Linked DNA regions of Homo sapiens: region 2 is linked to region 1. The links come from fine-mapping of genetic effects on gene expression. A gene starts in region 1. The other region holds a variant in brackets. All regions are shown on one strand. Distances are between the middles of the regions.

Region 1 (5,465 bases):
TCTAGAGGACAAGCATTGTAAGTATTAACATCGGAATCAGTGAAAACAATCAGTATAGATCAAGTTTTTAAGTGATACTTTCTCAGAAATGTATGTGTACAGGTCATTGAAGATTATCTATAAGCAATTGGTCTTGGAAAAGCATAATTTTTGAAGAACTCTCTTGCCCTGTGAGAGTGATCTAATATGAATGAATAAAATATATTTCTGTAGTTGAACTGAAAATAGGTACATCTCTGTTGTTGAATTCTAATAATTTTATTCTCTTTAAAAATTTACATAGAGTACAATTACCAGTGTTCTTTTGAACGTGCTATTTTCTCAAAATTCACATAGCTATCCCAATAACACTCTTAAAGACTTAAGCATAGTACTTTTATAAAGCCTCTTCTTTCAATATGTCTCCTAAAGTCCCCTTATAAAATGTCTTGTTTTAAAATAGCCGTCTTTGGAATACTTTATGATGCAGAGTTTTATTTATGTATGTTGGTTGTTTCAAGCCACTTCACGTAATGGTGATTCGATGATCAATGTGGCAAGAGTGAATATAAGACAATGTAAGTATGGACCACTAGTTATGTTGAAACTCAGACCCTCTGAGGATGCAAAAGAGAACCAGCAAGTATGCATCCTTCAAGCTGAGTAAAAGCTAAACAAACATACATCGGATAGAAACAAACAACAATAAAATCCTTATGGCTTTGTTGATCACTGTGGTGTTTAATTGACTCTATTTTAAGACTTTTCTACACTTAGCCCTCTCTCCCTACTCAAGGTGCAGCAAATCACTTTTTTGTTAATAATGCATGTCTGGATCTTATCTTGGCTGTGTCTGTATTGCAGTCAATGGTTCAAGTCCTCAAGGCCACTGCCAGCACCCTGGCACATGGGGGCCCTCTGCTGTCTTTGTTGTCCTGTTGACTGCTAAAGAACTCAGGCTAACAATGTTACTACCCACATTCATGAGTTACTTGTTGCTGGTTGTCATCTGTTGCCTTTCAAGTCTTTTCTGGAATCTAATTGTTTTTTGTTTGTTTGTTTGTTTTGTTTTGTTTTTGGTCTGGAACCCAGAAGACATTTATCTAATAAAATATTAGGTGATAATTTCCTAAGAATTTCAACAGATTTAAACATTTTGTCTTTAACATGGGTGAGTTAAAATCACTTACACTATACAAAAGTTAAGCATGTTTCCATCACCACTTTTCAGATAATAAAACCTCTTTCATTTCCGTGTCCATGGGGAACTATGCACCCTAAGGTCCTCCACACGTGGGAGGGGAGAATCTGTTCAGGAACTCTCTGAAGTCAGTATTCATCAAGAAATGGGTATTTGGGATGATCACACCACATGAGCATTTCTATGAAGCGGACATTTTCACTCCAGGCTTCAATGTCCTTGATTCAGTGAGAGAAAAGTCAAAGGCCTGAAGGTTTTCCTTGATCTTTTCAGGATTAAAGCTTTTAGGAATGACAACCACCCCTTGCTGGATGTTGAAACGCAAAATAACTTGAGCTGTGATCTTATTGCACCTTTTTAGAAGTGCATCCTTTAACGAAGGCAGAGAAGACATATTTGTCCAGGTTGGATTCCTAGTGGTCCCCAAAGGGCTATATGCAATCATGACAATGTCATGTTGTTGGCGAAATTTCAAAAGTTTTGGTTGGGTGTAATATGGGTGGCACTCAACCTCGTTGCTGACTGGCTTGGGTTTGAGTCCTGGGTTGTTCTGGATGAGCTCCAGCTGGCCTGCTGTTAAAACTGGATACTCCGAGGGATTTCACCAAGCCAGCATCTTTACAAGCTTCCGAAGTCTCCCAAGTGGCACACAGATTTGACTTGTGATATAACCATTTGCCATTCTCACCTATAGGGTAGATTTTGTCTTCTGGCTTAGCGGCCATGGGTATTTCAGTGATGTAAAGATCCACACAATCTAGCTGGAGGACCTTGAGCATCCTCTCTAGGCTCGGGCAGACCAGCTCTGGGTTGTGATTTGTAGCCCACAGTTTTCCACAGTAGAAGATATCCTTCCTCTGCACCTTTCCTTCTGCTATTTTCCCCCTGATGGCCTCCCCAGCTGTGTCTTCATTTTGGTATATGTAGGCTTCATCAGTGTGTCAGCACCCCAGACCAATGACAACCTTCACTGATGAAGACTCAGACTAAATGTAGAGACAGACTACTTGGGCTGTAGTGACATCTCTACCTACCACCTACTTGCTGTGTGGCCTTGAGTAAGTCATCGGCCCCCTTAGGGGTCAATTTAGGCTCTGAGTAGGTACCAAGTCTGATGATGGGAATGCTGTTTCCATCACTTAGAGGTATGCGGTGATTTGCAGGACTCACTTTCTTCATAGTGTCCTTTGATGCACAAAAACTTTTAATTGTGATGAAGTCCAATTTATCAATTTTATGTTGGATTGCTGTGACTTTGGATTATTGGCTATTCTTGTACATTAATTTTTTTCATATCAATTTTGGAATCAGCTTAACTTGTTCTAAAACTTTTTGTTGGTATTTTCAATGAAATAGATTGATTAATTAAGAGAGAATGGTGGTCTCCTTAAAAGAGAGCTTCCTATCAAAGAAGGGTATGCCTTTCCATTTACCCAAGTCCTTTCGGCGTTCTTCAGCAATGTTTTAAAGTTTGTTTCATATAGATATATTACAATTTTTAGACGAAGTTTATGTCTAGGTTTTAATGTTTTATTATTGTAAATTACTCTGGTGTTTAAATGTTGACAACTAACACAAGTGTTTAAAATACTATGTGAGCTACAGTATTTCACACAATGATCCAAATTCAGGCCAAGTTCAGATCTGCAACCTCAGATCTACTCCAGCTCTTTGCTTTATAGATAAGGAAGCTGAAGTCTAGAGATGTTGAGTGACTGACTCAACGCCACACAGCAAGTAGGTGGTAGGCAGAGATGTCACTAAAGCCCAAGGAATCTGTCTCTACATTTGTCCTGGACTCTAATCCAGGGTTCTGTCATTTTGCCAGCCACCATAAAATATTTGACAGTCTAGGAAAACAGCAAATGTTCTTACATCCATCGAGAACTTGTATTTGCCTAGAGATGGACTTTACCAATCAAGATAGGAATTAGATAAGAATTATTTTTTTTAAAAAAAGGAGCATTAAAACAATGGTCAAATGAGAGAAAAAGCAAAATTCAGACAGACAGATACATACACACACCCCAAACCCTCAAACCTCCAGGGCTTCCTGCCTGTGAACCGAAAGGGGGAGTGCGAATTTCTTGGCCCTGTCGGCAGGTGCTTTCTCAAAGGCCCCACAGTCCTCCACTTCCTGGGGAGGTAGCTGCAGAATAAAACCAGCAGAGACTCCTTTTCTCCTAACCGTCCCGGCCACCGCTGCCTCAGCCTCTGCCTCCCAGCCTCTTTCTGAGGGAAAGGACAAGATGAAGTGGAAGGCGCTTTTCACCGCGGCCATCCTGCAGGCACAGTTGCCGATTACAGGTAGGGCCGACGTGTCGACGGCAGGGAACTTCTAGAAACTCTTTGTGTATGTGTAGGGGAGTGGGTGTGGGTAGTGGAGGGTGGTGAGGGGCTGGGGTCTCCTTCAAATCCTGCCCTCCTCAAATCAATGGGCAAGTGAGCAGTGAGGGGTCCGGCCCGGTGCTGGCATCTGCTCCGTCACAGCCGAGTTGGGCATCAGTTCAGAGCCAGCTGCTAGAATACACAGCTCCTCCAGGTACAGATTTTTCGAGTGATAAGAGAGGAAGGAAGAAGGAAGCAAGAGAGCAACCGAGGCAGGCCCAGGGTAGAGAAACGGAGAGGGAGTGTTTCACAGAAGCTGGACAGGATCGGAAAATGTCAGCCAGGCCATGTTTCGTGCTGCGACGTTCTAGTCCCTTCAGCTTCTTTCACCCTCTGGCTGGCTCCGTCACTCAGCCCCTTTCTTTCTTCCTTTGCCAACAAAGAAGATTTTGTTGGTCAGTCAAGGTCATGGCCTGAAACACTCCAATGGGCCCGGGAGTAAGTGGGGTAACCAAGGAGGAGAGGGGCACAGGCAGGAAGCACCGGGTGGCAGCCTCCACAGCGCCTTCGCCACCTCATGGCCAAGCGTCCGTGTCTAGGCTCAGCCTTGTCATGGCTGTCCCCACACCCACGCCTGGGACTGCCGGGTGACGCACCATCCCAGGCTCCGTGACTCACCCCAGCCTGCCCCTTAGGCGGCCATCTAGCCCAGCCAGAGGGCCCGGCATTGACAGAACACGGGGCAGATGAGACGATGTGCCTGGTTAAGTCACCACCACGAGCAGCGCCCAGCCAACAAGAGTGCTTGCTCCTCACCTCATTCCCGATCGTGGGAGCCCAGCTTTGCTGCAAGCCTTTAGCTTCCACCATGTTTTCTAGCCCAGGTAATGAGGAAGAAAACCAGTGAAAAGAGGACAGGACAAACTGCTCAGGGGGATCAGCCTCGTGGCATCTTCCTGAGAAGTGGGGCAGGCTGAATTTCAATCTAAAGAAACAGGGAAGGTGAAGCAAGCAAATGTCCTCGGCCCACCTGATCGCTCCTGGTAACTCACCTGGGTGTGGGAATTTGTTTAGGGGCCCTGTTGGGAGGGCAGGAGAGGCCATGGGCACTTCTGCTCCCACCAGGGAGCCAGGCACAGCCCGGGCCAGCGCCTCGGGGGATTCTGAGGCCCGTGCAGCTGCAGGGGTTTCTGTCAGGTCACAGCTGTTTTCTCAGAAAAGCCTTGTGGGGTCTAAGTCACACACACAGTGTGGCAGAGTGAGGGTGCCTGAGCTTGCTCAGAGCAGCCCATCCTTGTGTGCTGGGGACAAGGGGACCCAGAACGCTGGAATTTAGTGACTTCAGGGGAGACAGCCAGGGGCAATAGCTCCAGCCTCTGAGCTTCAGGCTTGAGACACCACACCAGGGAGCTCATATAACCTTTCAGGGTCTTTACCTGCAGTTTCCTCACTGGTCCATTTGTGTTCGGCTTGGAGAGACCAAGGTAGGGGCAAAGTGAAGTTAGAAAGAAAAATGAAAGATTGTTGGGTGGCGGTGGCTGCCAAGCGTGGTAAACAGAACCCCACCCAGCAGACAAGATGGGGGCCGTGCCTCATTTCCACAAATAGGGGGCAGGAGGAGAAAACTGCACATTGGCTGGATTTTTTGCTTCTCAGTGCCACTTACTTTGCCTCTATGGAGACTGATATTTTAGCTATTTTAGATAAAGCTAATAGACAAAAGTGTTTCAAAATATCCTAGCCCAGAAACGAGGTACGGTAAGGCAAAGCGCGACTCAGAGAGGCCTTGACACCGAGGGCTGCGATGGTGCTTTTGCTGCCTGAGGGGACACCTCCACAGTCTCCCCGGAGGAAAGGCCGCACATAGAATTTCAGTCAGGTCTTCTCTCTTTTCTTGCTCAGTTAAGTGACCCATTGCATACATCCCTTTTAAAATGTCTACTTTTTACTAAGCTGT
Region 2 (5,000 bases), 30 kb after region 1:
AACAGTGCTGCTATAAACATGGGTGCACAAATATCTCTTAAAGACCCTGCTTTCAATTCTTTTGGGTATAGAACCAGAAGTAGAATTGCTAGACCATATGATAGTTCTATTTTTTTTTTTTTTGAGATGGAGTTTCGCTCTTGTTGCCCAGGCTGGAGTGCAATGGCATGATCTTGGCTCACTGCAACCTCCCTTCCTGGCTTCAAGCAATTCTCTTGCCTCAGCCTCCCGAGTAGCTGGGATTACAGGCATGGGCCACCATGTCCGGCTAATTTTGTATTTTTAGTAGAGACAGGGTTTCTCCATGTTGGTCAGGCTGGTCTCGAACTCCCGACCTCAGGTGATCCACTCGCCTTGGCCTCCCAAAGTGCTGGGATTACAGGCATGAGCCACTGCGCCCGGCCAGTAGTTCTATTTTTAACTTTCTGAGGAACCACCAAACCGTTTTCCACAACAGCTGTACCATTTTACCTTTCCGCCCACAGTGCACGGCATTCCTTCTCCACATCCTCACCAACACTTGTGATTTTCTGTTTTTTAAACAAGTAGCCATTCCAACGAGTAAAGGGTGATATAAATTTTTTAAGAGGCAAGACGTGCCAAAACTAGGATTTCAAAAATTGTAAATATAGAATAAAATAGACTATTTTAAATGTGACAAATTAACAAATTAATTTTAGCCTGCTTATATGAGTTCTTTCAAAGATAATTTCTTTTTATTTATTATTATTATTATTATTTATTATTATTTTGAGACAGAGTCTTGCTCTGTCAACCCAGACTGGAATGTAGTGGTGTGATCTCAGCTCACTGCAATCTCGGCCTCCCATGTTCAAACAGTTCTCCTGCCCATGTTCAAACGATTCTCCTGCTTCAGCGTCCTGAGTAGCTGGAATTATAGGCACCCACCACCCCACCAGGCTAATTTTTGTATTTTTAGTAGAGACGAAGGCTGGTCTCGAATTCCTGACCTCAAGTGATCTGCCCGTCTCAGCCTCCCAAAGGGCTGGGATTACAGGCGTGAGTCACTGTACCCGACCTTCAAAAATAATTTTTTTTTCTTTTTTGAGACGGAGACTCGCTCTTGTTGCCCAGGCTGGAGTGCAGTGGCGCGATCTCGGCTCGCTGCAACCTCCGCCTCGCAGGTTCAAGGGATTCTCCTGCCTCAGCCTCCGGAGTAGCTGGGACTACAGGCGTGCGCCACCAAGCCCAGCTAATTTTTGTATTTTTAGTAGAGATGGGGTTTCACCATGTTGGCCAGGATGGTCTCAAACTCCTGACCTCGTGATCCACCCAACTCGGCCTCCCAAAGTGCTGGGCTTACAGGCGTGAGCCACCGCGCCCGGCCTCAAATATAATTTCTAAAGGAAGAAAGAGATAGAGAGGGGAAGATAGAAAGAATGAGAGAAGAAAAATTAAGAAAGATGAGGTCAGATGACGGGGAAGGTGGAGAAGCTTTGCAGGCAGAGTCTGGAATACTGCTTTTGGAAATGTGAGGCCAGGCCCCGTGCCTTCCAAATGCACCCGATCTTTCCGCCGCCGTAGGTCCCGGATATATGGATTTGCTTGGGGACATTGCTTGCTTTCACAGGGAGGCTGTGTACTAGCAAGGACACAAAGATGAGCGCTCCACAGTTCCCTATTTGGGCCAGAAGGTCAAAAAAAGGGGTGGGGTGGTGGGGGGGCACAGGCAGCTAAACTGGCTCTGCCTCCTGGGGCCAAAAGGCCAGCTTCCTCCCTGGGCCTGGCTGCCCAGAAACCTCGGCGCGGGCACAGGTCAGAGGCCGAACTGGGTGGTATTCAATCTTGGGTTTAATGCATTTTAAAAACTGCTTTTGAAGGCGCAAATGCATCACAGTTCTTTCATTTCAGGGAAACCGCCTGTGAGAAAGGGGGAGGTGGGGAAAACGCTGAGCCCAGGAGGGGGCTGCCCTGGGCTTTTGTCTAACAAAGCCGCAGCTCCTCAGCAGCGGGGCTCTTGCCCTTTGAAAACCAATCGGGCAGGAACCCTTCAGCCTCCTTTCTGAGAGCCAGTCACATCACATTTTACAGATCTCAGAAAAGTGAGCCAAGTCCCTGCGCTATGTCACTCTGGGTTTGCGTCCCATGTCTCTGACACCCTGTTTTTCTGAGCAAACAGCCTCTAGGTGAACAACAGTATTTTGCTTCTCTCATCACTGAATAGGGTCAAACTTCCCATGGAATTCCACTACCAAACCAGATGAATAGAAAGAAAGCTGAGAGACCACTAAATAGGGCATTGCTGCTATCTCAATGAGAGTGTCACCTACCCACAAAGCAGGCAGGAAATCTTTAATTAACCCTGTTTCTAGACACAAAAGCCCTCAATAACATTTCATCCTATTTAAATAAATATTTTCAAAGAAGGTGATGTGGGAACACTTTTATTTTTGCTATTGGAGTGCTAATTTAATATCATATATAGTTTAAATTATCATATAAGAACCTATAAGCAGAGTTTGGGGTGGGGAAGGGGGGTTGGATCCTTCTAGGAACTCTCCTTTATCTCTTTCATTTTTATTCCACTGTGACACTTCCCTCTTGGGAAATTCCTGCCCCGGATTTTTATTAGTCTTTTGTCTGCTGTCCGGTGTTAAAACCTCACAAATCCATTACGTGCTTCTCGGCGCTGCCTTTCAAGTTACCTCTCCACGAGGTGTGGACTAATGAATCAAACGGCAAGGGAAGCAGCTGCCCTCAGCCCTCTCAGAAGAGGCCCGGCCCACAGCCATCCTTCAGAAAACCCTCCTGGCAGGCCCTCCCTGGGCTCAGCACACCCTCGCTTCCCTGGGTTTTTATTCGGAGCTGTCTGAG[C/T]TACAAGAACATACTCACGTACGTGACATAAAAACACGCACGCACATGCAGAAAGGGAAATACTTGTTGGGCTCCATCAGAGAGAATATTTTTCAAAAATCTCTCAATATTGTCATTATGTCAACTGCTAAAGATTCCCTGCTTGACAAAAACTTAATCAGGCTTCCAAACTTTCTCCTAGGCCCATCTGTGTACTTTCTTGCAAAATCCAGGTTTAGCAAAGAACTCTGCCCAGTTAGTTGAGCACAACCATCAACCTTCAATATCCGGTTCCCCTCAGTGTCTGATCAGGGTCCTCATCCCACTCCATCCCCCAGGTGAGGTCTGATCCCCCTGGCCTGTGTTCAGCTAGAGTCCTGTTAGGTTGGTTTAGCCAGAATCCCTCTCACTCTTTTTGGGAATTTTCTATCCATTGACCCCCTACTCTGCTCCTTGGCATAAATGCCCACTTGCTGTACTTGGAGTTGAGCCCAATCTTTCTGTCCCACTGCAAGACCCCATTGCAATCATCCTTCTACCTATCATGACAGTTTTGAATGAAGTCTGCCTTACTGTGCTTTAACAGGTATCATTGAATTATTTTTCTTTAACACATCTTAGCAGTAAAATTATCTTCAAAATTTTCTTAGAATGTATGATCATCATCTCTTATAGCTGTATCCTGATTTCCACTTTACAATAGAGTGCTCATATTATCATCTCATTTGTGCCTTTAACAAACCTTTTGGGGTAACAATTGTTATTTCCATGTGATAGCTGGAGAAACTGAGTTTGAATGAGTTCCTCAGGGGAACACAGCTAGAAAGTAGTATTGTGGGGCTGGCACACAGTGGCTCATGCTTGCAATCCCAGCCCTTTGGGGGCCGAGTGGGGAAGACTGCTTGAGGCCATGAGTTCAATACTGACCTGGGCAACATAGTGAGACCCCCATCTCTACAAAAAAAATTCTAAAAATAAATTAGTCAGATGTGGTGGTAGATACTTGTAATCCCAGCTACTCAGGAGGCTGAGGCAGAAGGATTGATTGAGCCCAGGAATTTGAGGCCACAGTGCACAGTGATCGTGTGCCACTGCACTCCAGCCTGGACAACACAGTGAGACCCTGTCTCGAAAAAAACAAGGTAGTGTGGTGGGAGTAGGACCCACACTTCTCACTGCTAGCCTGGTACTCATTCTTTTTGATAATGCTGTTGTGTCATGAAATGGCACTCAATTAGTGTTGTTGGAATGGTGGGTTGTGCCTGCCTCATAGACTGAGATCGGAGCCTACTTTGGTCAGTGCCTCCAGTAAGGTTATGCGGTTTAAGCATTGGATGGAGGTGCCAGGCTGAGGCTGCCAGTGGGTCCTGGGACTTGCCTGTACCTGCTCCCTGGCAGTGTGGGTCCAGGGATGCCCACCTGGAGGAAGGGGCATCAGCTGGCCTGAACCTGCCTGCCATGGAGCTGCCTTTTCTTTCTTCGTTTTTTCTTTTGTTTGTTTTAGATGGAATCTCACTCTATCTCTCAGGCTGGAGTGCAGTGGCACGATCTCGGCTCACTGCAACCTCCACCTCCCGAATTCAAGCGATTCTCTGCCTGAACCTCCCAAGTAGCTGGGATTACAGGCGCCCACCACCATGCCTGGCTAATTTTTGTATTTTTAGTAGAGATGGGGTTGCACCATCTTGGCCAGGCTGGTCTTGAACTCCTGACCCCGTGATCCACACACCTCGGCCTCCCAAAGTGCTGGAATTATAGATGTGAACCATCACACCCGGCCGTTTTCTTCCTTTTTTTTTTTTTGAAATGGAGTCTTGCTCTGTCACCCAGGCTGGAGTGCAGTGGCATGATCTCGACTCACTGCAACCTCCATCTCTGGGGTTCAAGTGATTCTCCTGCCTCAGCCTCCCAAGTAGCTGGGATTACAGGCACCCTCCACCACGCCTGGCTAATTTTTGTGTTTTTAGTAGAGACGGGGTTGCACCATCTTGGCCAGACTGGTCTTGAACTCCTGACCTCAGGTGATCCACCCACCTCGGTCTTCCAAAGTGCTGGGATTACATAGGCACGAGCCACCATGCCCACCCAGAGCTGCCATTTCTAACTCACACAGAGGTATCAGAGCAGCTTGCAGTGGCCCGCATAAGTGGCCAGAGCTCTTTCCTGGGGGTTGCAGGGGGTTTCTC

What was found. PIP is the estimated chance that this variant, and not a neighbour inherited with it, causes the effect. A credible set is the group of variants that fine-mapping cannot tell apart.
Region 2: its variant is the best candidate, but not a certain one, in a credible set for the expression of CD247 in whole blood (INTERVAL, PIP 0.78).

The regions. Positions count from the first base shown.
Region 1 is chr1:167,516,430-167,521,894 of GRCh38, reverse strand. It overlaps CD247 (CD247 molecule), which reads left to right and starts at 3,366. Exons shown (of 8, transcript NM_198053.3): 1 at 3,366-3,487. The coding sequence starts at 3,430. It also overlaps the pseudogene AKR1D1P1. RefSeq lists enhancers at 3,535-4,734, 4,006-4,969.
Region 2 is chr1:167,486,691-167,491,690 of GRCh38, reverse strand. The region is part of intron 1 of CD247 (CD247 molecule); the gene reads left to right. Among named protein-coding and RNA genes, the nearest start is that of CD247, 29 kb to the left of the region's middle. The variant C/T (reference allele first, on the strand shown) is at 2,836.